Homo sapiens: one gene and its partners. The protein of the gene in region 1 purifies or fractionates together with the protein of each later gene. This does not show direct contact. Each region holds a gene or a part of one and is shown in the gene's direction. Other genes may lie near its edges.

Evidence for each region.
Region 2: the proteins of SLC15A4 (region 1) and TTYH3 purify together in Homo sapiens (affinity purification with mass spectrometry; one large-scale study listed by BioGRID and IntAct). This does not show direct contact.
Region 3: the proteins of SLC15A4 (region 1) and SLC38A1 fractionate together in Homo sapiens (co-fractionation; one large-scale study listed by BioGRID). This does not show direct contact.
Region 4: the proteins of SLC15A4 (region 1) and TOM1 purify together in Homo sapiens (affinity purification with mass spectrometry; one large-scale study listed by BioGRID and IntAct). This does not show direct contact.
Region 5: the proteins of SLC15A4 (region 1) and SMCHD1 fractionate together in Homo sapiens (co-fractionation; one large-scale study listed by BioGRID). This does not show direct contact.
Region 6: the proteins of SLC15A4 (region 1) and NUP155 purify together in Homo sapiens (affinity purification with mass spectrometry; one large-scale study listed by BioGRID and IntAct). This does not show direct contact.
Region 7: the proteins of SLC15A4 (region 1) and SLC39A14 purify together in Homo sapiens (affinity purification with mass spectrometry; one large-scale study listed by BioGRID and IntAct). This does not show direct contact.

What each region holds. Positions count from the first base shown.
Region 1 is NC_000012.12:128,813,959-128,817,458, reverse strand, and holds part of SLC15A4 (solute carrier family 15 member 4), read left to right. Parts: exon of another isoform or gene 1-2,081; intron 2,082-2,388; coding exon 2,389-2,684; intron 2,685-3,500. UniProt on the Homo sapiens protein: Proton-coupled amino-acid transporter that mediates the transmembrane transport of L-histidine and some di- and tripeptides from inside the lysosome to the cytosol, and plays a key role in innate immune response.
Region 2 is NC_000007.14:2,652,486-2,655,985, forward strand, and holds part of TTYH3 (protein tweety homolog 3), read left to right. Parts: intron 1-432; coding exon 433-525; intron 526-3,500. UniProt on the Homo sapiens protein: Calcium-independent, swelling-dependent volume-regulated anion channel (VRAC-swell) which plays a pivotal role in the process of regulatory volume decrease (RVD) in the brain through the efflux of anions like chloride and organic osmolytes like glutamate.
Region 3 is NC_000012.12:46,203,044-46,206,543, reverse strand, and holds part of SLC38A1 (sodium-coupled neutral amino acid symporter 1), read left to right. Parts: intron 1-381; coding exon 382-464; intron 465-1,953; coding exon 1,954-2,012; intron 2,013-2,126; coding exon 2,127-2,243; intron 2,244-3,454; coding exon 3,455-3,500. UniProt on the Homo sapiens protein: Symporter that cotransports short-chain neutral amino acids and sodium ions from the extraccellular to the intracellular side of the cell membrane. The transport is elctrogenic, pH dependent and driven by the Na(+) electrochemical gradient.
Region 4 is NC_000022.11:35,323,894-35,327,393, forward strand, and holds part of TOM1 (target of Myb1 membrane trafficking protein), read left to right. Parts: coding exon 1-21; intron 22-3,377; coding exon 3,378-3,494; intron 3,495-3,500.
Region 5 is NC_000018.10:2,798,726-2,802,121, forward strand, and holds part of SMCHD1 (structural maintenance of chromosomes flexible hinge domain-containing protein 1), read left to right. Parts: intron 1-555; coding exon of another isoform or gene 556-658; intron 659-1,797; exon of another isoform or gene 1,798-2,015; intron 2,016-3,396. UniProt on the Homo sapiens protein: Non-canonical member of the structural maintenance of chromosomes (SMC) protein family that plays a key role in epigenetic silencing by regulating chromatin architecture.
Region 6 is NC_000005.10:37,361,107-37,364,606, reverse strand, and holds part of NUP155 (nuclear pore complex protein Nup155), read left to right. Parts: intron 1-222; coding exon 223-360; intron 361-622; coding exon 623-719; intron 720-3,500.
Region 7 is NC_000008.11:22,370,278-22,373,777, forward strand, and holds part of SLC39A14 (metal cation symporter ZIP14 isoform a precursor), read left to right. Parts: intron 1-3,500. UniProt on the Homo sapiens protein: Electroneutral transporter of the plasma membrane mediating the cellular uptake of the divalent metal cations zinc, manganese and iron that are important for tissue homeostasis, metabolism, development and immunity.

The sequences.
Region 1 (3,500 bases):
TAAGTTTATATACTATGTTTACTGGCCTCTTTTATGCTTGTCAAAAAATTACTTTTTGTTTGTTATTTTTTCGCACTTCTAGTTTTGTTTTCTCAGTAACCATTTCTCTGCTCACATTTTTCATTTTTCTTCCTGGTCCATGTCTAGTATAGCATGAGAATTGGTGTCCACTGTTGAGCAATATTTAAATGCATTGTGTCCTAGTGAAGAAGTGTCTTAGATGTCTGTGAAGTTCTCACCTCAAACTCTTTATTCAGTAGAGATGTCTGCATTTGGTCTAGGACCTCTGTTCAGTATTGTAATAGATAAGAGAAAAGTTTAAACTCTTGAGAATAAGTGATTTTCTTTTAAATTTAGATTTTTCGTTTGAAGTGGTGTTACTATATATAATTAATTACCTGCCACCATAGTGGCCATGCTTAATCATTTGGACTTCAAACAAATCTCTTTTTGAGGAGCACACAATTTTTTTTCTTTTGCTCTATTTCCTTTAGAGAGGAACACACAATTTTAACTATAAATTTTACTCCTCTGATTTAATCTTTAAAAAATAGAGTTTAAAATACCATATCAAATATATGACTGCTAAAAAGATGCATGTGCTTATTACATACCATATCTTTTTTTTTCTTTTGAGACAGGGCCTCTGTCGCTTAGGCAGGAGTGCAGTGGTGCCATCACAGCTCACTGCCACCTCCTCCCCAGTTCAAGGGATCCTCCCACCTCAGTCTCGCAGGTAGCTGGGACTGTAGGCGCACACCACCGCACCTGGCTGATGTTTGTAATTTTTTGTAGAGATGGGGGTCTGTCTGTGTTCCCAGGCTGCTCTCAAACTCCTAGACCCAAGCGGTCTGCCTGCCCTGGCTTCCCAAAGTGCTGGGATTCCAGACCTGAGCCACCATGCCCAACCGTAATTGGTTGTTTTGGCCCCATTGAGAATGTGTTATTCAGTAGAGCAGATTGTTCTATGGATCCAGAAACTAGATCTATTATTAGAATAAGAATTTTCTAACTCTTTCATAACCTGTGACTTAAGAATGAGACAGTAGAAGTTTTTAAGACAGCAAGAGAGTCTTTTTATGAGATCCAGTATCAGCCTCTCATAAGTTTGTTAAAAATAAATTTATGAAATGAAACTCACTAGAAATGTCTCTGTCTAGTACAGGGTTCATTTGCACAGTATCTTATTTAGACGTAAAAATCCAGGTGGGCAGAGAAGGCTTCTGGTGTGTCTGCCCCCAAATGACCTGTTCCCACCGCTTGGGCTCCATTGAAGTAGCCTCGTGAACTCCATAAGCCTAGATGTTGCGTTATTACCTCAGTGCTTTTGTTTGAGTCCAGGAAGTCAGTGATTTTTGAGCCTTTTGGAAATCCCACCCTTATCAGAATTTCTCCGATTCCATTGATAGCCTGTCTAATCTAAAAATAGCATGTGGTTTTATCTTTAGTCTATAATTTCCTCTTTGCTTCAAGTTTACTGAGATCTCTGATTCTCAGGAGACCAGATACAATTGGTGTGGGTGGTGACTTGGCCTCACTGAACAAATGTCTCTCTTTGGGGCCTAAGCATATTTGTGGGGTGCCTCATGGTACTTGCATGTAGCTCAGTAAGGCATGGAGCTTTATAACATTGGTTCTAAAACTTACCTGTGAGTAGAAGTCACCTGGGAAGTTGCTTGAAATGCAGATTCCTGGGCCTGGGCCCCAGAGACCGTGATTCAGTAGGTCTGGAGCGTGGGTCCTGTGACTGTGTTTGTTTTTTGTTTGTTTGTTTGTTTGAGATGGAGTTTCACTCTTGTCAACCAGGTACAGTGGCACAGTCTCGGTTCACTGCAACCTCCATGTCCTGGATTCAAGCGATTCTCCTGCCTCAGCCTCCCAAGTAGCTGGGATTACAGGTGCCCACCACCATGCCTGGCTAATTTTTGTATTTTTAGTAGAGACGGTGTTTCACCATGTTGGCCAGGCTGGTCTCGAACTCCATACCTCAAGTGATCCACACGCCTCAGCCTCCCAAAGTGCTAGGATTATAGGCGTGAGCCACCATGCCCAGCGGACTCTGTTTTTAAAGAGCATTCCAGGTAATTCCAAGGCAAGTGGTTCAGGTACTTAGAAAATTCTACAGCAGAATATACTTGGAAAAACTCTCTAGCATTTGTTGGAATTTAGTGTAATTAAGTGAAACCTACCTAGCAACTGTAGTAATTAAAAGCGTGGGGTGTGCTTTTTGTTGAGATCCGTGAATGTTTCTGTAAACACAATTTTGATTGTGTTGCGCTTCTTAAAGGTTGTGATGACAACGGTAATTTTAACCACTTGACCGTATATGGTTTTCATCCTTGAAGACTGTCATATATTTTCAAGTGTCTTTCCTCCCTGTTATTTTAGGTTAAAGATCGAGGTCCGGAAGCCACTAGGAGATTTTTTAATTGGTTTTATTGGAGCATTAACCTGGGAGCGATCCTGTCGTTAGGTGGCATTGCCTATATTCAGCAGAACGTCAGCTTTGTCACTGGTTATGCGATCCCCACTGTCTGCGTCGGCCTTGCTTTTGTGGTCTTCCTCTGTGGCCAGAGCGTTTTCATCACCAAGCCTCCTGATGGCAGTGCCTTCACCGACATGTTCAAGATACTGACGTATTCCTGCTGTTCCCAGAAGCGAAGTGGAGAGCGCCAGAGTAATGGGTAAGCACTTAGTTCTCATCTTGGGCTGTTTGAAAGGACTTTATCGATCTCTTTATTAACATCCTAGCTTCGGTTTGTTGTGTGCTTATTGTGTGCTGGGCCTGGGCTGAGTGGTTTACATGTCTTCTCTCCTTTAACACTGCATTTCCCCAAGGAGGCGGGTGCGGTCTTATTATCCCATCTTAAAGACAGGCCAGTGGCCTGATTCCAGAGCTCATGCTTTAACCCCACGTTGCACTTTCTCTCACTGCTAGTGTAGACGGAAGCTCCTTTGGTGCCAGATTATAAAGGTAGAAATTTGTGGAGGACATCGAGGAGACAGAAGACATGCTTTATACATGTTTCTTTTTATTTTAAAAAGCTTTGAAATACATTTGAATGAAAAACTAAGCAGTTGCTTATGCTGTCAGTACCTGTCTCTGCTCTTTAAAAAGTAAGCCACTGCCTCTTACCTAAAGGTCAGCATGGGCTCCATCATACAGCGGTCAGGTCCATCATACGGCGGTCAGGTCCATCATACAGCGGTCAGGTCCATCATACGGCGGTCAGGTCCATCATACGGCGGTCAGGTCCATCATACGGCGGTCAGGTCTGTAACTCTTGACAGGAAGGTGCAGTAGCAGAATGGCGAGATGCACTGAGGGTAACCAGATGATCTCATGGGACTTACCCAGTGTTAGCACCAAAGTCCCATGAACTGAGGTGTTAAAACAGAAAGGCCTGTGTCCTCAGAACCCCTCCAAGTCACTGGCCAACTATGACTCATGTTTGGTGATGTTGGATGCCAGTTAATAAAGTCCAGAACTTAAGCCCAAG
Region 2 (3,500 bases), on another chromosome or scaffold:
CTGCTTTTGCTCCTTGGATTGGCCTTGGTGGGGGAAGGAGGAGCCCCAGGGATGCCTCTGTAGGGTAACCGTGTTCAGGCGTCCTGGTGGGGGAGTTTGAAGAGGTCGGCCGCACCAGCTGGTCAAGCCCTGTACACACTGCCTGTCATTGTACCGGTAGCATGTGACCCTTTGAATCCTGAGGGCCGTGTGACTGTGCTTTGCTTGCTGGTGTGGGTGCGTGGTTGGCTGTTACCACCTCAGGGCTCTGTGGTCTCTGGGTGTGTCCCGGGGGAAGCAAGGGCAGGGAGTGCCCTGTTGGCCTGCAGAGCAGAGCCTTGATGGTCTCCCAGGCTGGACGTCTTGCTGGTGTCCCCGCGTTGGAGGGTCCTGGGGAGGGAGAGGCGGGCGGACCCAGCAGCGCCCATGGACTTGGTCTCCTCTCTGGAGCAGAAGCTGTCGGGCAGCCACAAGGCACTGGTGGAGATGCAGGATGTCGTGGCTGAGCTTCTGAGGACCGTCCCCTGGGAGCAGCCGGCCACTAAGGTGAGGGGCTGCGGGGTAGGCACTGGGGCAGGCAGGGCTCCTCTTTTCTCAGCATGAAAGGAATTTGTGGTGCAAACACAGCTCAGGGCAAATTTGGAGAAGGCACCAGGCTGGCCGAGTGGGGACCTGGTGTTGGAGGTGGCATGGGAGGTGTTCCTCTTCCCTCCCCCAGCCCTTTCCGCGTTAGGCCTCATTTTTTCCTCCCCTTCCTCCCTCCTTCATTCCTTTCCCTTGGGAATTTTTGGTAGGTTTTAAAAATCATTTCTTTTGAGATGGGCTCTTGCTATGTTGCCCAGGTGGGTCTCAGGGCTGGGATGACAGACGTGAACCACCACACCCAACGTTTAAAAAATAACTTTATTCTTTGTTTAAAAATAATACAAGCTCTTTATATTTAAAAAAATTGAAGAAAATGGAAAGAGATGAGGGAAGAGAGTAACAGAATCAGATCCATTCTCTGGGTGAGTGCCCTGGGGGCATTGTGGAAATTTGAGAGGATTCTTGTTTTTCCCTGTAGTGTTCTGGGCCCGGGCATTTCTACATTACAATATGTTAAAAAAATAAAATAAAGGCCTGGCGCGGTGGCTCACGCCTGTAATCCCAGCACTTTGGGAGGCCGAGGTGGGTGAATCACTTGAGCCCAGGAATTCAATACCAGCCTGGCCAACATGGTGAAACACCATTTCTACTAAAAATACATAAATTAGCTGGGCGTGGTGGTACACGCCTGTAATCCCAGCTACTTCAGAGGCTGAGGCAGGAGAATCACTTGAACCTGGGAGGCAGAGATTGCGGTGAGCGGAGATCACGCCACTGCACTCCAGCCTGGGCAACAGAGCGAGACTCCATCTCAAAGAATAAAATAAAAATAAAAAATAAATACGTTGCTATACTCTTGATAAAACCCAAATCTCTTTGGAGGTGTTTGGTCCACCCGTGGGGATCCCTGCCCCCACACACACCGCCCCAGGACTGGACATGAAGAGGGAGGAGTGCGTCTGTGGGCACAAGTGTGGGTCTCAGACTCCATTTGGGAGCAGCTGGCCCTTCTCCAAGGAGCTCTTCACAAAGATAAAAGCAAACAAATGTGTATACACACACGGGGCCGGGCACGGCACTCATGCCTGTCATCTCAGCACTCTGGGGGGCTGAGGCAAGGGGATCACTTGAGCCCACGAGTTCAAGACCATCCTGGGCAACATAGCAAGACCCCATTCTACAAAAAAATACAAAAACTAGCTAGGTGTGGCAAAGCATGCCTGCAATCCCAGCTGCACAGGAGGCTGAGGCAGGAGGATTGCTTGAGCCCGGGAGTTCAAAGCTGCAGTGAGCTGTGATGGCACCAGTTCACCCCAGCCTGGGCAACAGAGCAAGACCCTGTCTCTCTCTCTCTTTCTCTCTGTATGTATGTGTATATATATATAACATATATACACACACATAAAAAAAAATTAAAAATAAAAATTATACACACACACACACAATTGCTTTGATTTAAAGTTACTTTTTAGAATTTCTGTTACAGCTAGAGCTCCCTCTTGGCGTTTTTGCACTCGAGTGGGTAGGGAAGTGGATTCGTTTCCTGGGACCCCCATAGCACAGCAGCCCAGATGGGGCAGCCTCCGCAGCAAACGTTTATCATCTCACAGCTCTTGGCAGGGCCGGCTTCTTCCAAGGCCTCCCTTTTGCTTGTAGACGCTGTCTTCTCCCACTGTCTTCACAGGACCATCCCTCTGTGGGTGTCTGTGTCTTGATCTCCTCTTCTTTTTTATTTTTATTTATTTATTTTTTTGAGACAGAGTCTCTCTCTGTTGCCCAGGCTGGAGTGCAGTGGCGCAATCTCGGCTCACCGCAACCTCTGCCTTCTGGGTTCCAGCGATTCTCCTGCTGAGTAGCTGGGATTACAGGCGCCTGCAGCGCACCCAGCTCATTTTCCTCTTCTTATAAGGACACCCGTCCCATGGGGCTAGGACCCACCCATGTGACCTTGGTTTACCTTCAACACCTCTTTAAAGGCTGTGTCTCCAAGTGCAGCCCCTTTCTGAGGTCCTGGGGGTTCAGACCGCAACACAGGAATTCTGGAGGCACCATTGAGCCCGTAACAGTAGGCTCTGTTATCCCGAAATCCATTTCTTTTTTTTTGGTGTTGTTTTTGAGATAGGGTCTTACTCTCTTGCCGAGGCTGGAGTGCAGTGGTGTGATCTCAACTCACGGCAAACTTCGCCTCCCGGCTGAAGCGATTCTTCTGCCTCAGCCTCCTGAGTAGCTGGGACTACAGGCGCGTGCCACCACGCCTGGCTAATTTTTGTATTTTTAGTAGAGACAGGGTTTCACCATGTTGCCCAGGCTGGTCTCCAACTCTTGGCCTCAAGTGATCCACCCACCTTGGCCTCCCAAAGCGCTGGGATTACAGGGGTGAGCCACCGCTCCCGGCCCCAAAATCCATTTCAGGATTGTAGTGGGTCCTTAGAAAACGTGCCGTAAAAGGCAGCAATGGGCCCAGTCACTGCTCCTGTGGAGTCGCTGTCAGCCTGGCAGTGTTTCTGTGCAGCCGTTTCTCCAGGCATGAGACAGAGCTGGTGGTGTCCGTGCACAGGTGCACACGCATGCACACACGTAAGCACCGGTGAGCACACGGACACATTACAGGACTGCGCTCACTCTGCATGGAGAGTTTTGTCAGTCAGTATGAGACTCTTCCCTTGTCTTTAGCTGTTCCTTGAAATAATACTTTCAAAAGCAGAGCAGGTCCGTGTCAGTAGACACGTGGGGGTTCGCTGTTTCTCCCATTACAATAAAGGGAGGTCTGTCTTCACGTAGTGGCGACCACACTGGACAGGCGCTTCTGGGTCCTCATGTCCTTGGTAGACCCCACGGGTCTGAGGAGGGGCCTGGGGTCACCATTTCTCAAGGCCCAGAGTCCTTGTCCTCAGGACCTGCACTGAGACCCCAGGGTGGGGGGTATCTCAGTCGAA
Region 3 (3,500 bases), about 83 Mb from region 1:
TGTTTCTCACTGATACTAGCCCAGCAAAACAAAAAGGAGCTTTCTCTTTAAATAATTGATAGGACAAGTTGTAATCTGACAGAATGAAATGTGTGCATTCAGCTTTGAAACCATGTAAATAATTCAAAAGAATGCCACATTTAGCCAATGGGAAAAAAAAAAACCAATATTCCCTCTTCCATTACAGGGGAGTGAAGCTGTAGTATATAAGTAGGGGCTGGGTTAAAGTGTTTGGATAAGACCTGAATAATGATTTTAAAAATTAATGCATATAGTAAAAATTAATAAAAATATATATCATGATATCATGAAATTTTACATTGGAGGGGAAAAAAGTCACTTTCTAAAAAAATATAACCTAATCACTTAAATGCCTTTCAGAGCCTGGTACGTGGATGGCCGCGTTCTGGTGGTGATAGTTACCTTTGGCATAATTCTCCCTCTGTGTCTCTTGAAGAACTTAGGTAAGGACAGATTTTGCTTTTATCATATTCTGCAGTGCCCAAGTGAATCAGAAACTGAATAAAAATGGACAGTGTTGCCCTCTGCTTCCCCTCTGCATGCACTCAAAGATTAAGTACATGATAAATTGCAAGTATTAATCGGTCCCAACTTTAATATGGGATAAAAATAACAGTCAGTATGTGACCTCCTAAACAATCCCTCTACTGAGCTGTGGAGGGGAGAAGGGAGGTCCTGGGGCCAGGACAGACAGGGCTATTTTCAGTAGTACAACTTATATGCTACTCTAAGAAAAGTCCAGAAAATGCAATTCTCTTCATACGAAGTCTTAAATACCCTCATTATTTAGATAAATACATTTTCAAATCTAATATGGAGACAGAAAGCTGCCTAGATTTATACCCACAAGTATTATAAATTTAGAGAGTCTGACCAGCCTCAATTATTTCTCTTCGAAGTGGGAGAGAGAAATCAAAAGTCAGAAATGGCGGATAATCTCCAAGTCATATCCATTTGGCTTTGATCTACTACTTGTTTTTATGCTTGTATTTGGAGACAAGGATGCCTGATGTTAAGGGAATTTCATACATTGAATAATGTGACCAGACTGCCATCTAGTCAAAAACCTATAAAATGTATTTACTTTAATTCTGGGCTAATTCAAACAGAAGTTTGGATAAAAGCTCTCCAAACAATAATTATGAGCCTTAGTTTTTTGTTTTGTTTTGGATACAAAACAAAACAGCTCTGTAGTTGTTCTGTGAGGTTTATAAATAGATTTTTTTAACTACTTAATTTTCTGGTTTCTGCCTCTGTGTTTTCTGTACCTATAGAGGTAGCTCTTTTCAGTTAAGTAGAGAAAAGCTCTTCCCCTGGGTTGAAAATAATGCAGTCCCGAGAGGCTACTTAACTCTACCTTTCTGGAGGTCATGGTAGCAATTGGAGATCTCCCAGGCATTCTAAGGGGAGCTACTAAAGAGCCCCAGATACTCAATTTACCACTAGAAATTCGCTTCATCTACTCTCTGTCATCTGGGGAGAAAAGTATTATAACTGACATTCAGTATGCACACAATAAGTGCATAATAAAGAGCTATTGAGGGGATCAAGGAGTAAATGGGTTTGCCCATAGGACTCCATCAGGGTCCACCAACACAGACTTACAGCAAAAATTGGAAGGCTCTTTTCTGCTGGATTCTGGGAATCTGTGTTCTCTAGTGTGCCAGGGAGAGTTGGAATCAAAACACGTAATATAATGTTTCTATTCAGAGCCCCATTTTTTTGCCAAATAAAGTAGCACTGTCAAATAATAAATCTTGTATTCACTTGGGCATGTATGTTTATTATTGGATCTCTAAAATATGCTTCAAATAATGCACTGAAATAAGTGAGGTGATGAATTTTGAAATAATAACAGTTTATGATGGGTAGCTCCAAAATTTTTAAAAATGGAAAAAAATGAAATAATTTATTTTTTACTTTTTTTTAAAGGGTATCTTGGCTATACTAGTGGATTTTCCTTGAGCTGTATGGTTTTTTTCCTAATTGTGGTAAGTGCTGATTGCAATGGTTGGTTTGGTTTTGTGATAGTACAATGGCATGTAATAATTATTCATTGGCTTTACTAAAGTCCATATTGCTTCTACTATACTTCTTAATACCAGGTTATTTACAAGAAATTTCAAATTCCCTGCATTGTTCCAGAGCTAAATTCAACAATAAGTGCTAATTCAACAAATGCTGACACGTGTACGCCAAAATATGTTACCTTCAATTCAAAGGTAAGTTTCCTGATCCTTTGCAGATGAAACAAGCATTTTTATTAAGGACATTCTATTTCTCATGCTTGTAATTGCACTGGTTTGAATGTATTAGTTCTCAAAAGAACACATGATACCATTGCTTCCAGATTACACATCTATGTAGAGATCCTTGAGAAATATACAAATATTATATTTTACACTCTCTCTTACCATTAAGCATTCTCTGTGAAAATCCCATTCTGGATAATTGTCTCAGCTTTTTCTGTGTAGAGTGCTAGGTGATACTTCAAAAACAGACTAACAACATCCTTAGCTCCCTTCTTCTGGCGATGACAGAAAGGAATACTGCAGACTTCCTCAGGTTGCACAGTTGAAATATAGATGCCACCACAAACTGGCACTTAAAAAACTCTCATACTATTAAAATATTGTTGATACAATGGGAAACAGAGGATTATGGAGTCAGTCAGGCTTGGATTTGAATCCTCAGGCAAGTCACCCAACCCCTTGAGTAAAAATAAGTATTCTATTCTGTATCTTACAAGGTTTTGTTAGAATGTGCCTGGCATAGTGCATCAGCAGAGTTAGGGCATAAGATAGGTTAGTTTTCACTTCTTTTTGCATAGGAAGTTAGATTGAGTGTGAGAGTTTCAAAGAGCCTTATCTAAGAAAACTAAATAGATCGCGATCTTTCTCCTTCTCTCTGATTGTAAGGATATAGCCAAAGTAGTGCAATATGGAACAGATTTTCTTTTCAGAGGGTATCTTTTAAGTCCGATTCCATGCACCTGATGTAGAGCGAAGAGCAGTAAACTAGAGGTGGGAGTGCTGGGCCAGTCGCCTGACCTGTTGGAGGGAGCCAGGAGAACAGCCACAGTCTGCCTACTGCTTGGGATTGCTGTGGGGACCCAGCGAGCTATCCTAGGAAGAGTGCCATGTAACTGGCTCATGCTGTATAAACAGGGGGTGTTGTATACCTGGAGTATATAAAATACACCATAGGTGAGCCAAATCCGAAGTCCCTCTGTGACAAGTGGCTAATGGCTCGAGCTAGACAAGCTGTCTTAGAAAAGCTGCTTCTACTTTAGAGATCAAAACCTCCCTAATAACCGAATAATCCAGGGATTCTGAAGAGCTGTCAGATAAAAAGACAGCTCAGAAATACTGGAGCTATGTCCTTTTTATGGTAAAAGTGTTTTTCCTAATGTCTATTCTTTTCTCTCAAATAGACCGTGTATGCTTTACCCACCATTGCATTTGCATTTGTTTGCCACC
Region 4 (3,500 bases), on another chromosome or scaffold:
ATAGCACCAACCCCGGAACAGGTAAACGAGCCTGGGGTCAGAACCGTCAGGTCCAGGCAGGTGGGCCACACACGTCAGGGAGGGCCCCCTGTCAGAATTTACCATCCACGGAGCCTCCACTTCTTCCTCACAGCAGCCCACAGGGTATGTGTGGTTCTTCCTGTTTGAGCGATGAGACTCAGAGAGGTCCATTCACTTGCCCAGAGCACACAGTCATCAGAGACAGTTGGGATCCAAGCTCACGTCTGTCTGACTCCTGGCAGGCACTGCCCTGTACCTTGGCCATTTTCCAACCTGTGTTTTCTGCGGGGCCCTCCAACAGCACCATGGAGAGGTGTCCTGTACGCAGCCCCTTCAGGCCAGCTCCACCTGTGTGGTTTCTTACACACTCACAGCTTTCATTTGAGCTGGGCATGGTCACGTGCGTCTGTGATCTTAGCTTCTCAAAGGTTCAGGCAGGAGGATGGCTTGAGCCCAGGAGTTTGAGACCAGGCTGGGCAACATAGAGAGACCTGTTTCAAAAAAAAAAAAAAAAAAAAAAAAGGCTTCATTTGAAGAGAGGTTCTGCCTGAAAAGTTTTCAAACATCTGTGCAAAAAATAAAAAACATATGTACATTGTACCATGCTGCTTCCCATGAAGTCTCAAGAAGGTCTGAAGCTTTTTTGTTTGTTCTGAAACAGTCTTGCTCTGTCACCCAGGCTGGAGTGCAGTGGCACCATCTAGGCTCACTGCAACCTCTCTCTCCCAGGTTCAAGCAATTCTCCTGCCTCAGCCTCCTGAGTAGCTGGGACTACAGGCATGAGCCACCATGCCCAGCTAATTTTTTGTATTTTTAGTAGAGATGGAGTTTCATCATGTTGGCCAGGCTAGTCTCGAACTCCTGAGCTCAAGTGATCTACTCGTCTTGGCCTCCTAAAGTGCTGGGATTACAGGCATGAGCCACCACACCCAGCCAAGAAGGTTTGAGGCTTAGTATGAGATTCTAGGGGACAGGTTTTCCCAGCCCTCTGACTAGCTTTGAAGGATTACCCACCTCAGAGCAGGTGGCACCCTGGGCATGTCACTTCCTTCCTCCTCATGGCCCACTGGGCCATGAGCTGCTTGTGGAGTGCCATGGCTGCTGTATCTGCTGAGTGACTTCTACAGCCATGACCAGCTCGTAGAGCTGGGGGCTTGTCATTCTAGACTTTTGGCTGCTGGGGTGGGGGCAGAGGCCTGCACACTGTGGAGACACCCACGTTAAAGGTGTTGTACACACATCAGGCCCATCACATCCGCGGAGCGTAAAGGTGGAGCTGCTGAGTGTGCTGGTGAGTTAGACACGGATGTGTGATGGAAAGAAAAGTGAAGCTTAACTTTCCCAATAAGCGTCCCCACTGCCCACTTTTTGTATCATTTGAACTCATTCTCACCCTAACCTATTTGAAGAGAAACTTCCATGATTTGTTTTCTCATAGCAAGTTATGAAATCACCCCTCAGAGTTACAGATATTACTAGAAAATTTTGCTAACTGGACAAAATTATTAACGCACTGCCCGTTTGCCCCAAGAATACTCTTGTCTCTAATCCTAATGTAACCTCATATACATTTCTGTTACGTTAGGATTGGAGACAAGTTCTGTTTAGAAATAACTCCAAGAACAGTTTTTATGTTTTATTTTCATGTTGAAAATCAGTCAGGTTTACTTCAGCCTCAAAGAGCATGTTTATGTAAAATTAAATGAGTGCTGACAGCGAGCTGCACTTTTTTTTTCTGAGTGGGTTAAAGGTGTGTAAAAAATTGTAAAACCACCTTGTGATTGTCTAACTCAGTTATGATTTTAACCAATTTTCTGAAGTCTAGCATCTGTGTGGATTAAGACGCTAATTACTTCCAATGCAAGAAGGTGCTTGCTAAACAAAACTAATCTTTGTTTAATTCGAGAGTCCCCTTTTGTCTCTTGGGACATGTTAAGACATCAGGTGTGCAGTGATGTTACTCCCAGACTCCTCTGTAATTAAGTCCCATCTGATTTGGATACATGGGGTTTGTGATCAGTAGTTTTTCCACTCACTCATACCAAGAGTGTTCATTAAGTAAGCCAAATAGATCAAACATTTTGCAGGTTTTGGAAGGTGTCAGTGAACCATAGTGGATATACTACTAGTCTCTACACTCCATTTCTTCATCTATAAAAGCAGGGATATTGATGTCTACCATGGTAAAAAATTAAGTTAGCAATATATGTTCAATGCTTGGCACTTATTAGGTAGTCTATAAATGGTAGCTGCTGTCACAATCATGAATGTATATAGTGACACTCTGAAATCAACTATAACTCAGCCACATGATTTAGAATGTACCAGCATTTCTCAAAACATAAAAAGGTTCTTCAGTCAAATAAATCTTAGAAGCTTTCAGACTGATCTTTTCCCAGGCATTCCCAGTGTGCATGAGGGCATTAAACACCCTACAAGGTCCCACAGCATAAGATCCTTATACCAATGGCCTTTCACAAGCTAACCTCTTTGAGGAGACTGCAGCTTTATTGAAAATGTTTCCCCAAGCCCAACTCCTTGGAACCCTTTGACCATTGAAAACCTGCCCACATCCCTTGGAACAAGTGCTAAATCTGAGTTTCATATTCAAGGTGGGGTACAGGGCAAGGACTATCCTTAGATGAGCCTGGGACACCAAAATAGACCAGAAACAGGACAAAATCCCAGTCCACTAGGAGGAGAAAGAGGGCAGAAGCCCAGTCCACTAGGAGGAGAGAGAGGGTGGAATCCCAGTCCTCTAGGAGGAGAGAGAGAGGACGGAATCCCAGTCCTCTAGGAGGAGAGAGGGCGGGATCCCAGTCCTCTAGGAGGAGAGAGACGGCGGGATCCCAGTCCTCTAGGAGGAGAGAGGGTGGGATCCCAGTCCTCTAGGAGGAGAGAGAGGGGGGGATCCCAGTCTTCTAGGAGAGAGGGCGGAATCCCAGTCCTCTAGGAGGAGAGAGAGAGGGCAGAATCCCAGTCCTCTAGTGGGAGAGAGAGAGAGGGCCTGCAGCGTCCCTCCCCGCCTTGTGGGGAGCCACCCTCCAGGGCCTTGTTAGCTGCTGTGTTAGACCCAGGAGATGCTGGAGTCTTCCAGCCACACGTGGTGGCTCATTCCGGTGTGGAGATGGTAACGGTTGGTAGCGCCTCTGTGAGGGGTCTGTAGAAGGGGTGGGGCAGGCCTCTAGTGCAGAGCTGTCACTTTGGGAGCCAGGAGGGAGGCTGCCTAGAGAGGCTGCTGGGAGGTCGGCTCCCTGGTGCTGCACCCAGGGTTGGTGGTACTGGGTTCTGTCGCTGTGAGTAACATGGGCCCCAGAACCCTGGCTTCTCTCACCACGATCAACTGTGTGTTTCAGATTGGGAAGCTGCGCAGTGAGCTGGAGATGGTGAGTGGGAACGTGAGGGTGATGTCGGAGATGCTGACGGAGCTGGTGCCCACCCAGGCCGAGCCCGCAGACCTGGAGCTGCTGCAGGTGAGC
Region 5 (3,396 bases), on another chromosome or scaffold:
TAGGAAATTCACTGTATTATTCCCTCTGCTTTTATATAGGTTTGCCATAATTTTTTAAAGAAGTATTTTATGAACAGTGGGATTATTTTTTAGAGAGACCAGAACCCACTTCCCACTAAGGAAATTCCTCAAGGTGCAGTTCTAGGCTAAGATGTAAGGTACATGTTTTTGTGCCACAGTCTCAGCACTAAATTTGCCCTAGACCTTCCAGTTACTACAGCGCTACTGTGGACATTGATTTGGAACTTGTTAATTAAGATTTTGTAGCAATTCAGAGGGAGTTTATGTTTTAGTTTATAATATTGTTAGTAGTATAATGATCATCGGTCATATGTGTATATATCAAATGGTATAGATTTACAGTGTTGTACTATACGTGAGTCACATATATAATTTTAAATTCTCTAGAAGCCATATTAAAAAGGAAAAAAGGAACAGTGAGATTAATTTTAATAATAGATATTATTGAACCCAATATCCAAAATATTTCTACATGTAAACAACGTTAAAAATGATTAATGAGCTATTTTACATTCTTTTTTTTTAAATACAAAGTCTTCACAATTCAGAAGACAGCAAATCTCAATTAGGACTAGCTACGTTGCAAGTACTCTGGAGCCACACACATGGCTGGTGGCTACCGTTTTGGACTGCACAGGTATAGAAAGAGCTGATGATCGTAAAATCTTGTATCCTATGCATCCTTACCCCTATTCCATCCTTCAGAGGCAACCTTTGTTTTAACTGTTAATTTTTAGTTACTCTATTGTTGCCTCCACTTTTAAAAGTTACATTATTATGACTATGTAAATATTGTTCAGGCAAATATTGTACTAAGCAAACTTGTGTGCTAGAATTACACTTCCTTCTCTATATGGGTCTAATGTCATGACTCTTACTTAGGCCACCAGTTAGTGCTCCAAACATCAGGCTCAAATAAATCTTCCTTACTCTGTTATTCTTAAAATCACGTGAAGTGTTATTCCAATTGTTACTAAGACTCTTTCTTGTTAATTTTTCTGGAGTTTTTAATTGCCACCTTTTTTTTTCTTTCCCTATGTATCTTAATCACATCTTCTTCCTCCTGTACCAGTGACTAGTAACTGTGCAGGCCTCCTGTAAATCTGCCATCCTGGGTCTTCCTTAGTTACTCTCTTGGATTATATCCATTATTTATTGGATTCCATGTCTTTCTCTCTCTTATAAATTCCTTAGAAAAAATGTGTAGAAAGATAACTTGGAGCCCTTCTATGTCCGAAAAATGTCTTCATTTTGCGTTCACGTTTGATTGAGGTTTTCTGGAGATAACAGGATAGAAACAAGGCTAGAATATACTAGAGGTGAAGGGATTGGGAAATAGTCTAGAAATAATAGGAGACAGTCTGCCTGATTTAGCCCCAGAAACACTTTGGATTCAGAGTCAGTTAGAACAAAAGAGTGAGAAGTCCAGCAACTCTCCCTGTTTGGGAGTCCTGTCTCCCAAACAGGGAGAGTGGCAAATAAAAAGGACGGAACAGAATGGAAAAGGAAAGGAAGCCACAGCCTAGAATGTACCAGATTTTCAACCCAAACTTTGAAAGCTTTGTTTCCTTGTCAACAGGCATGAAAAGATGCCACTACAAAGTTAGATAACAATGGAAATGAATTAAATGTTGGTATATTGGCTTTTGGTAGTTGCTGGCACACTAGGACCTAATGCTGGCCTCTGGGAACTAAAAGGCTGATAACTGGCTCTGCACCTGCACATTTATCTATTTTGATTTTAATTCAACAATTTTTACTTTATTTATTTTGTAGAGATGGGGTCTTGCTGTGTTGACCAGGCTGGTCTCAAGCTCCTGGGCTTAAGCTACTCTCCTGCCGCGGCCTCCCAAAGTACTGAGATTACAGGCCTGAGTCACCATGCTCGGCCCAACATCCACATGTTTAAAGCAAAACCTGTGGACCCATGACGTTGATTTGCCCTATCCCAGTTATAGTTACCATCAAGTCCCACTCGGAGAAGAGACTTGTTGGTAAAACAGTTCTATTTTTATAATAGTAGAAGAAATTCCAGCTAGCAATGTAATCCTCTTTCTTAAATGTAATTGTACAACTAACAGTCATCACACATATGAGGGTAGCCAGCAACGTGAGAGACAAAATTCAAGATTAAGTTCCAAAATCAACATGGAGGACAATTTAGTAAAGAGACTAGACCTCTTTTATAAAATTATAATTACTATGTAGCAGAAAGGAGCCAGGACAAGAATGAATAAACAGATTACAAATATTGTTGCTGAAATAAAAATGTTCAATAGGAGGATTAAAGTCCAAAAAGAAAACTTCCCCAATACAAAAAGAGATAGAAGACATAGAGAACCAATTCAGACTATTAGGAATCTAGAAAGAAGAAAATGGAGAAGGAAATGCTATCATGTGGAAGAGGATTTCCTAGGGATGAATAAAATTCATTGAATGCCCAGCAACAGTGACTGACAAAATACTCACTAAGATACTTCATAGTAATACTGTATCATATCAAGGAGAGGGAGAAAGAGTGTCAGTGATTTTAGAGAAGCCAAAGAACCATATTTTCAGTGCAGCCTTTAGTACATGGGGAGACACACACACAAAGCTATCATTTGTTTAGCTTTGTGATGGCGGTATTAGAAGTTTAGGTGGAAAATTTGGTGTATTCTGGACTGCGACTTTCTCCTCTTTGCATCCTGATTATATTCATGAAATTTGTTAAAATCACTATGAGGGATTTTCTCATCCTCAGTCTTTTCCTATTCTCTATAAATCTTTAATAAATCTCACACTCTCAAGAGGTCAGAGCATTTGAAATAAAAATCTTAACAGTATTGAATATTGGTATATTTCATCCATACAATCAGGAACAAATTTAATAGTAGGAAAGGAAATAGGTACATTATATGTGTTTCTGTATATTTATGTTTATGTTTTTATTTACATATGTATACTGAATATATATTTGTTACTGCTTATAGATCACATACTATGTTTCATCAACTTTAAGATTTCATTAACTATAAAAATGTCATTTTATGAAACATTAAAGAAAAATATTGCAAATTAACTCATGACCTTATAAAGTACATCTGGATTTCAGAGATGTTAAGTGTGAAAAAATATCTTAGAATTCATTAGATATGCTTAGCAATATATGATACTATGCAGTAGATTCCATTGTTTTCTTGAATAGAGGCTTCAGTTTTCTAAATAATTTTCCACTTATAAAGATTAAAAATTAGTTCTGTTAAAAATATGTATCATCTTCTATTTGGAGATAGTTCAGGGAACTATTAGAAAATATTTACATATACCTGAATTTTTAAAATCTGTAGCTATATATGTCAAGGTGCTCACTGTGTTCATCTCTACATGAATGAG
Region 6 (3,500 bases), on another chromosome or scaffold:
AAGTTTTTTGAGATATGACTTTCCCTTTAGGCCTGAAACCAGTAACTGTTCCTACCTTCACAAGGGAATATTTCAGGACTACTTTGTGTTGGGTCAAAACTAGAATATTCTCTCTGTACCTTTGGAACCAACACACAACAATTTTTTTGTGGCACTCAATCCTTTTGTTTGCCCGGTTGATGAGCAGTACATTATTATAAATACTTCATTTTCTTTTTGTAGATAATCCCACCGTTTCTGGCATGTCAGATATGGATTATCCTTTGCAAGGACCTGGTTTGCTGTCCGTACCCAACCTTCCAGAGATCAGTTCCATCCGAAGAGTTCCTCTCCCACCTGAACTTGTTGAGCAGTTTGGACGTATCCTATTACTTTGTATTTATTTTAAAAATGTTAAAATTGGTATTTTTCATTCTTATAATTCTTGTTCTATGTTTAATTAATGTGTTATATATTCATTTAAGGGTTTTATTTAAAATTCGTTTAAGTATATGGGTTCCATGTTGTATTAAAGAGTGGACACATTGTGATTTTTTACGTAAATATTAAGTCAAAAGCTATTGAAACAAGTTAAAGAAGAATAAGATTCACCTCTGTCTGCCTTACATCCACACTACCTCAGATATGCAGTGTAATTGCATGATGGGTGTGTTCCCTCCTATCAGCAGAGCTTGGCTCACAATTGACAGTGATATATTCATGTGGAACTATGAGGATGGGTATGTATTTAAGGCTGGTTTGCTTTAAGGGTGATTGGAATTTATATAAACTTTACTGTAGCTAGTGTTCTCATTAGAAGCTGCTTGGTTTATCTTTCATTCATCTAGCCTTTGGGTCAGTGCTTCTCAGTATCAGTCATCTGGAGATGTTCAAATGTGCATTCTGTCTTAGTAGTCCTGAGTGAGGCTCAAGAGTCTGCATTTCTAACAAGCTGCCAACTGCTGCTGCTGGTTTAGGTGCCATTCTTGAGTGGCAGGAGCCCGGGTCCCAAGCTGTTAGCCCGTAGTAAAAATAGATGTTGGCAATTCATTGAGAGATGATTGGACATTTTTAAAGACTTCTGTTTTCCTTGCATTTCTATGGAGTAGGCATGTGATATTTATTTATTTTGTTGTCATTTTGTGAATTTGACCCGTGTGTAAATTATATGTATAGAAATGATTCTGAGTGAAAGCCTAAGGTACTTTTGCTTAAATACAGCATGTTGGTCTGGTGATCTCCCTGTTGACTTTTTAGAGATAGATTTTGTTTTACTTCCAGTTGTCCATTACATTATCCTTAGATGAGGTGTGGGATAAACATAGGAAAGCCCATATAATTAAGATGTTACTCTTGTTCCTGAGTAATTAATGATCTTTTTAGGAACACACGTGCATTAAAAAGACACTGTATCGGCCGAGCACGCTGACTCAAACGCCTATAATCCCAGCACTTTGGGAGGCTGAGGTGGGTGGATCACCTGAGGTCAGGAGTCCGAGACCAGCCTGGCCAACATGGAGAAACCCTGTCTCTACTAAAAATACAAAAATTAGCCAAGTGTGGTGGCACATGCCTGTAGTCCCAGCCACTCGGGAGCTGAGGCAGGAGAATTGCTTGAACCTGGGAGATGGAGGTTGCAGTGAGCTGAGATAGTGCCACTGCACTCCAGCCTGAGTGACAGAGCGAGACTCCATCTCAGAAACAACAACAACAAAACACTGTATTATTGAAACAAAATTGAAACTAAATGACAGCTTAACACCTATAGCTTAAACGAAACCATTTTTTTCTACTAGAAGTTTCGTAGCAATTTTTCATGTTGAAATGTAATAGTTGTAATAGCAGTGATGTATGATTGTGATTATTTTTCATGTACCCTGAATGTTCCCCACTTTGTTATGTTACCATAACATATTCATTTTTATACTAAATAATGAAACCTTTTTTGTTTAGGTATGTATCTTTTCAAGAGAAGTCATTGCAAAAATATTACAGAACAGATAAATGTGAGAATAATTGTTTTCTTTAAAATATGTTTTCGGCTGGGCATGGTGGCTCATGCCTGTAATCCCAGCACTTTAGGAGGCCAAGGCAGGCAGATCACCTGCAGTCGGGAGTTCGAGACCAGCCTGACCAACATGGAGAAAGCCCATCTCTACTAAAAATACAAAATTAGCCTGGCATGGTGGCACATGCCTGTAATCGCAGCTACTCGGGAGGCTGAGGCAGGAGAATCACTTGAACCTGGGAGGCGGAGGTTGTGGTGAGCCGAGATCGCGCCATTGCACTCCAGCCTGGGCAACAAGAGGGAAAACTCCATCTCAAAAAAAAAAAAACACTAATGAAATTTTTTACATTTCCATTAACATCCAACATATTTATTTAACACATACATATTGATCTTATGTATCTGACACTGTTGTTGTGGTAGGAACAGTACTGAATGAGATGAATGTAGTTCTGCCCTCATGGAACAAACAGTCCTACCTTACTGTGTGTCTTAGTCCGAGCTGCTAAAACAGAATACCATAGCCTGTGATCAACATGAATTTCTTTCTCATGGTTCTGGAAGCTGGAAGTCCAAGATCAAGGTCTGGTGAAAGCCCACTTCAATGTTCATAGATGGCTATCTTTTCACTCTGTCCTCACATGGCAGAGGGGTAGGGGAGTTCTTTGGGTCCTCTTTTATAAGGGCACTAATCCCATTCATGAGATATACCCTCATGACCTAATAACCTTTCAAAGACCCCACCTACAAATACTATCACATTAAGAGTTAGGATTTAATATGAATTTTAGGAGGACACAGATATTTGATCCATAGCAGTGTGTGTTCATTTAAAGAAAAATTATTTGAAGAATGTACTTATTTTAAAAAATCAAGGCACAAGGTCCACAAATTCAATTTTGTAAAATTTATACTTAGTTTAAATATTCAATTGGCTTTCTATTATAAATCCTAATTCCACCTGGATGATAAAAATGTAATCTTGGTCATTTCATTGTTCTCTAACCCCCAAATATCTCAGCATTGGATCGTAGTTCCAAGAGGCTGTGCCAGTTATCAAAGGGCCCTGTGGAATGGCATGATGTAAGAGGATGGGGAATCCTAGTCCGCATAAGTTGCCATTTAGCTATTTTGTTCCTGTGTGGATGGCCTTTTCAGGATGACTGGAAGCTTTCTTGAAAGTCTAGATCATATTTTTTCGTGGTATTTTTTCTGCTTCTTGTTCTCTGAGCTTCTTAGATCTTTAGTTTGATGTCTTCTATTATTTTTAGAATTTTTTTCAGCTGTTATCTTTATTTCTCTCTCTCTCTCTCCTTTTCTGTTCAGCCATTGTCTTTTTTTTTTTTTTTTTTTTGAGACAGAGTCTCGCTCTGTCGCCCAGGCTGGAGTGCAGTGGACTATCTTGGTTCACTGCAACCTCCACCTCCTGGGTTCAAGCACTTCTTGCCTCAGCCTCTGGAGTAGCTGGGACTACAGGTATGGGCCACCACACCTGGCTAATTTTTGTATTGTT
Region 7 (3,500 bases), on another chromosome or scaffold:
TGCACTATTCCAAGAGGAAACTCAATCCCTGTCCAACATTTGCAGAATCATGGGGTTTACACAGTAGTGTTGTGAATAGATTGTGCGTGCCTGGGAACCAGGACCTCCCTCTCCCCACTATGTCAGGATAATAGCCTGCCTGCACCTGACCTGGCCAAGGTAATGCTGCACCATGTTGCTGAGCCCCACAACCATGGAATGTTGAGCAGGGGACTTTGGTGATCTTGGAGTCCAGCACCTTTATTTTACAGTGAAAGAAACTGGATCCAGGGAGGTGAATTGGTATTCCCGAGTCACATGGTTGCCAGTGGCCAAGAGACTTGATGGAGAAGACCAAAGAAGGGTTCTATTTTTGATCCTAAATGTGATTATGAAATTGCTGACACCTCCAGTCTTTGCTTGGAAACTAGAAGAGGAAGGGGCCATTTGTCCCTGTGCTTATTGAGGGAGGGGGTGTTAGTTTCTTCTGGAGGAGTCTCTTACTCTTTCCAGACTCCCTGGAGACATGGGAGGCTGGGGAGTGAGCAGGGAAGGGACCTGCTGCTCAGCCCAGCCGGGACTCACCGGGTGTCTGCAGTGGGGCTTCTCTGACCTCCAGGCTGGTGGGCTGGTGGAATGCCAGGAGATAAGGAGTCCAGAGTCCGCCCCATCGACTGTCGCCAGCCAGGGCTTCATGCCCACCTAGGGGACAGGAGGGCAGGCCCTAGAACACAGGGTCACGAAGCCCCACTATCTTGTTCCCCCCTCCCCCCACTACCGTGGGCATTAAACCTCTCAGGGGGCCCCTGGTTGGGCCTGGCAGAGGCAGAGACGCAGAGGCTGGGCCCTCTGACCTGCACAAGGAAAAGAGGCCGGGAAAGCCACAGAATTGGCCTGCCCAAGGGAGCCCAGAGTGCCCAGCCATGGGAAACCGAATTCTCCGCCTTGGCAACTGGAGATCGGACTGTTGTTAGAACTCCTAACCTCCCTCCAAGGGCAGGCCCCAGAGAATCTTGGGGCTTGGTGGAATGAGAAGGTGAATGCCCTACATTTATTACCGCCGAGTTCCTAATGGCCCTCGTAGGCAGTGCATTCAGTATTAGTAGTTAATAAAAAAAATCAGATAAAAGTTGGATATCTAAAAAAAAAATACATGTCTTTTTTTTTTTTTTTTTTTTTTTTTTTTTTTTTTTTTGAGACGGAGTCTCGCTCTGTCGCCCAGGCTGGAGTGCAGTGGTGCGATCTCGGCTCACTGCAACCTCTGCCTCCTGGGTTCAAGCAATTCTCTGCCCCAGCCTCCCAAGTAGCTGTGATCACAGGTGCCTGCCATCACACTTGGCTAATTTTTGTATTTTTAGTAGAGACGGGGTTTCACCATGTTGGCCAGGCTGGTTTTGAACTCCTGACCTCGTGATCTACCCACCTCGGCCTCCCAAAGTGCTGGGATTACAGGCATGAGCCACTGTGCCCAGCCAAATCATATCTTTTATCTTTTTTTTTTTTTTTGAGACGGAGCCTTGCTCTGTGGCCCAGGCTGGAGTGCAGTGGCACGATCTCGGCTCACTGCAAACTCTGCCTCCCGGGTTCAAGCCATTCTCCTGCCTCAGCTTCCCGAGTAGCTAGGATTATAGGCGCCCGCCACCACGCCTGGCTAATTTTTGTATTTTTAGTAGAGACGAGGTTTCACCATGTTGGCCAGGCTGGTCTCCAACTCCTGACTTTGTGATCCGCCCGCCTCAGCCTCCCAAAGTGCTGGGATTACAGGTGTGAGCCACTTGCACCCGGCCCCTTTATTTTATCTTTAAAACATGTATGTATTTTTATTCACCAAAACTTTGATTTAGGGCCAAGCCCTTTCCTTTGAGTCTTTAGATCCCTTATTTAGACTACTTAGAAATTGTTTGTATATAAAAATCATACTTAAATGTATTACCTGTAATTTCTCATTTCTTTCATTTTATTAAATTTTTTTTTCCTACTAGGCTCCGTATTCACATAGTTGAAAAATCAAGACGGTAAAAAACAGCAAAACCTTGTCTTCCCCCAGCTTTTCAATAAATGCTCCAAGGTAGCATTTTAAACATCATTCAGCACCTTGCTTTTTTCACCTAGCAACTATATTAAGATCTTTTCCATATCAGCACATAGAATGCTTTTAGCATTCTCTGTCATAGCTGTGTAGTATTGCATAGTATGGAAGTATCATCTTTTTTAACCAACACACATATCACCCTGTCTGCGCTTATGTTTGCAGAATATATCTGTGAAGTGGAATCGCTGGGTAAAAGGTTAAATCTGTTAATTAGCTTTCACTAAATAAAAAAATGAAGCGAAGACAAGAGATATTTGCAAAACAGCCATGTTCGGAATCCAGTTACTGCTTTTATGTACATACCTAGTTTAATTTCAGCTTTTTATTATTTTTCCATTTGCAACAAATCTTTCTAGATGAGTAATTCTCAAACTTTTTGATGCTAGGACCCCTTACATTGTCTTTTGTATATGTGGCTATCTGTATTGATAGTATATTAAAAATTAAAACTAAGTAAAGAAAAATTTTTTTGAGACATGGTCTCACTACGTTACCCAAGCTAGTCTTAAACTCTGGCTTCAAGCGATCCTTCTGCCTCAGCCTCAAGACTGAGAAATTTTAAAATAGTTATTTATTCATTTAAAAAGCAAAAATAAGGCGATTACACGTTAACATTAAAAAAAAAAATGTTTTGAACGGGCGCAGTGACTCACACCTATAATCCCAGCATGTTGGGAGGCCGAGCTGGGCAGATCACAAGGTCAAGAGATCCCGACCATCCTGGCCAACATGGTGAAACCTCGTCTCTACTAAAAATACAAAAAATTAGCTGGGTGTGGTGGTGCACGCCTGTAGTCCCAGCTACTCTGGAGGCTGAGGCAGGAGAATCGCTTGAACCTGGGAAGCAGAGGTTGCAGTGAGCCAAGATTACGCCACTGCACTCCAGCCTGGTGACAGAGCGAGACTCCATCTCAAAAAAAAAAAAAAAGTTTCATGAAAAATAACTATATTTTCCAAAATAAAGTAGTCAAAAGAATGGCCTTGTTAGCATATTTTTAGAAATTTCAGGATTTTAAAATAATTATTTATTGGATGATAATGAGATAACAGGTTATAATAGGTGTAACTTAAATTTGCTGTTAAGAAGTCAGTTAAAAGTTCTGAGAACAAATTGAGCTAATCTCTGAGACCACCTATATATTATATTATACCCTAAACTTCTACCTTAGAAATTTCTCAAAGACTCAAGATGACACAGGTACGTGTCACATTTCATGTAGCTTCTGAAAAGTGAGAGTGAAAAGCTTTTAATTTTTGTATATTAGAATAAAAATAGTCTTTTACTTCAGGGACCCCAGGTGTCATATAAGACAGTAATTTCAGAATTACTGTTCGAGATCACTTAGCTTAAATTTCTCAGAAGTCAGACATTTTTCTTTGCATTTATTCTTCAGGGTTTTTTGTTTTTGTTTTCTCGTTTTTTTTTTTT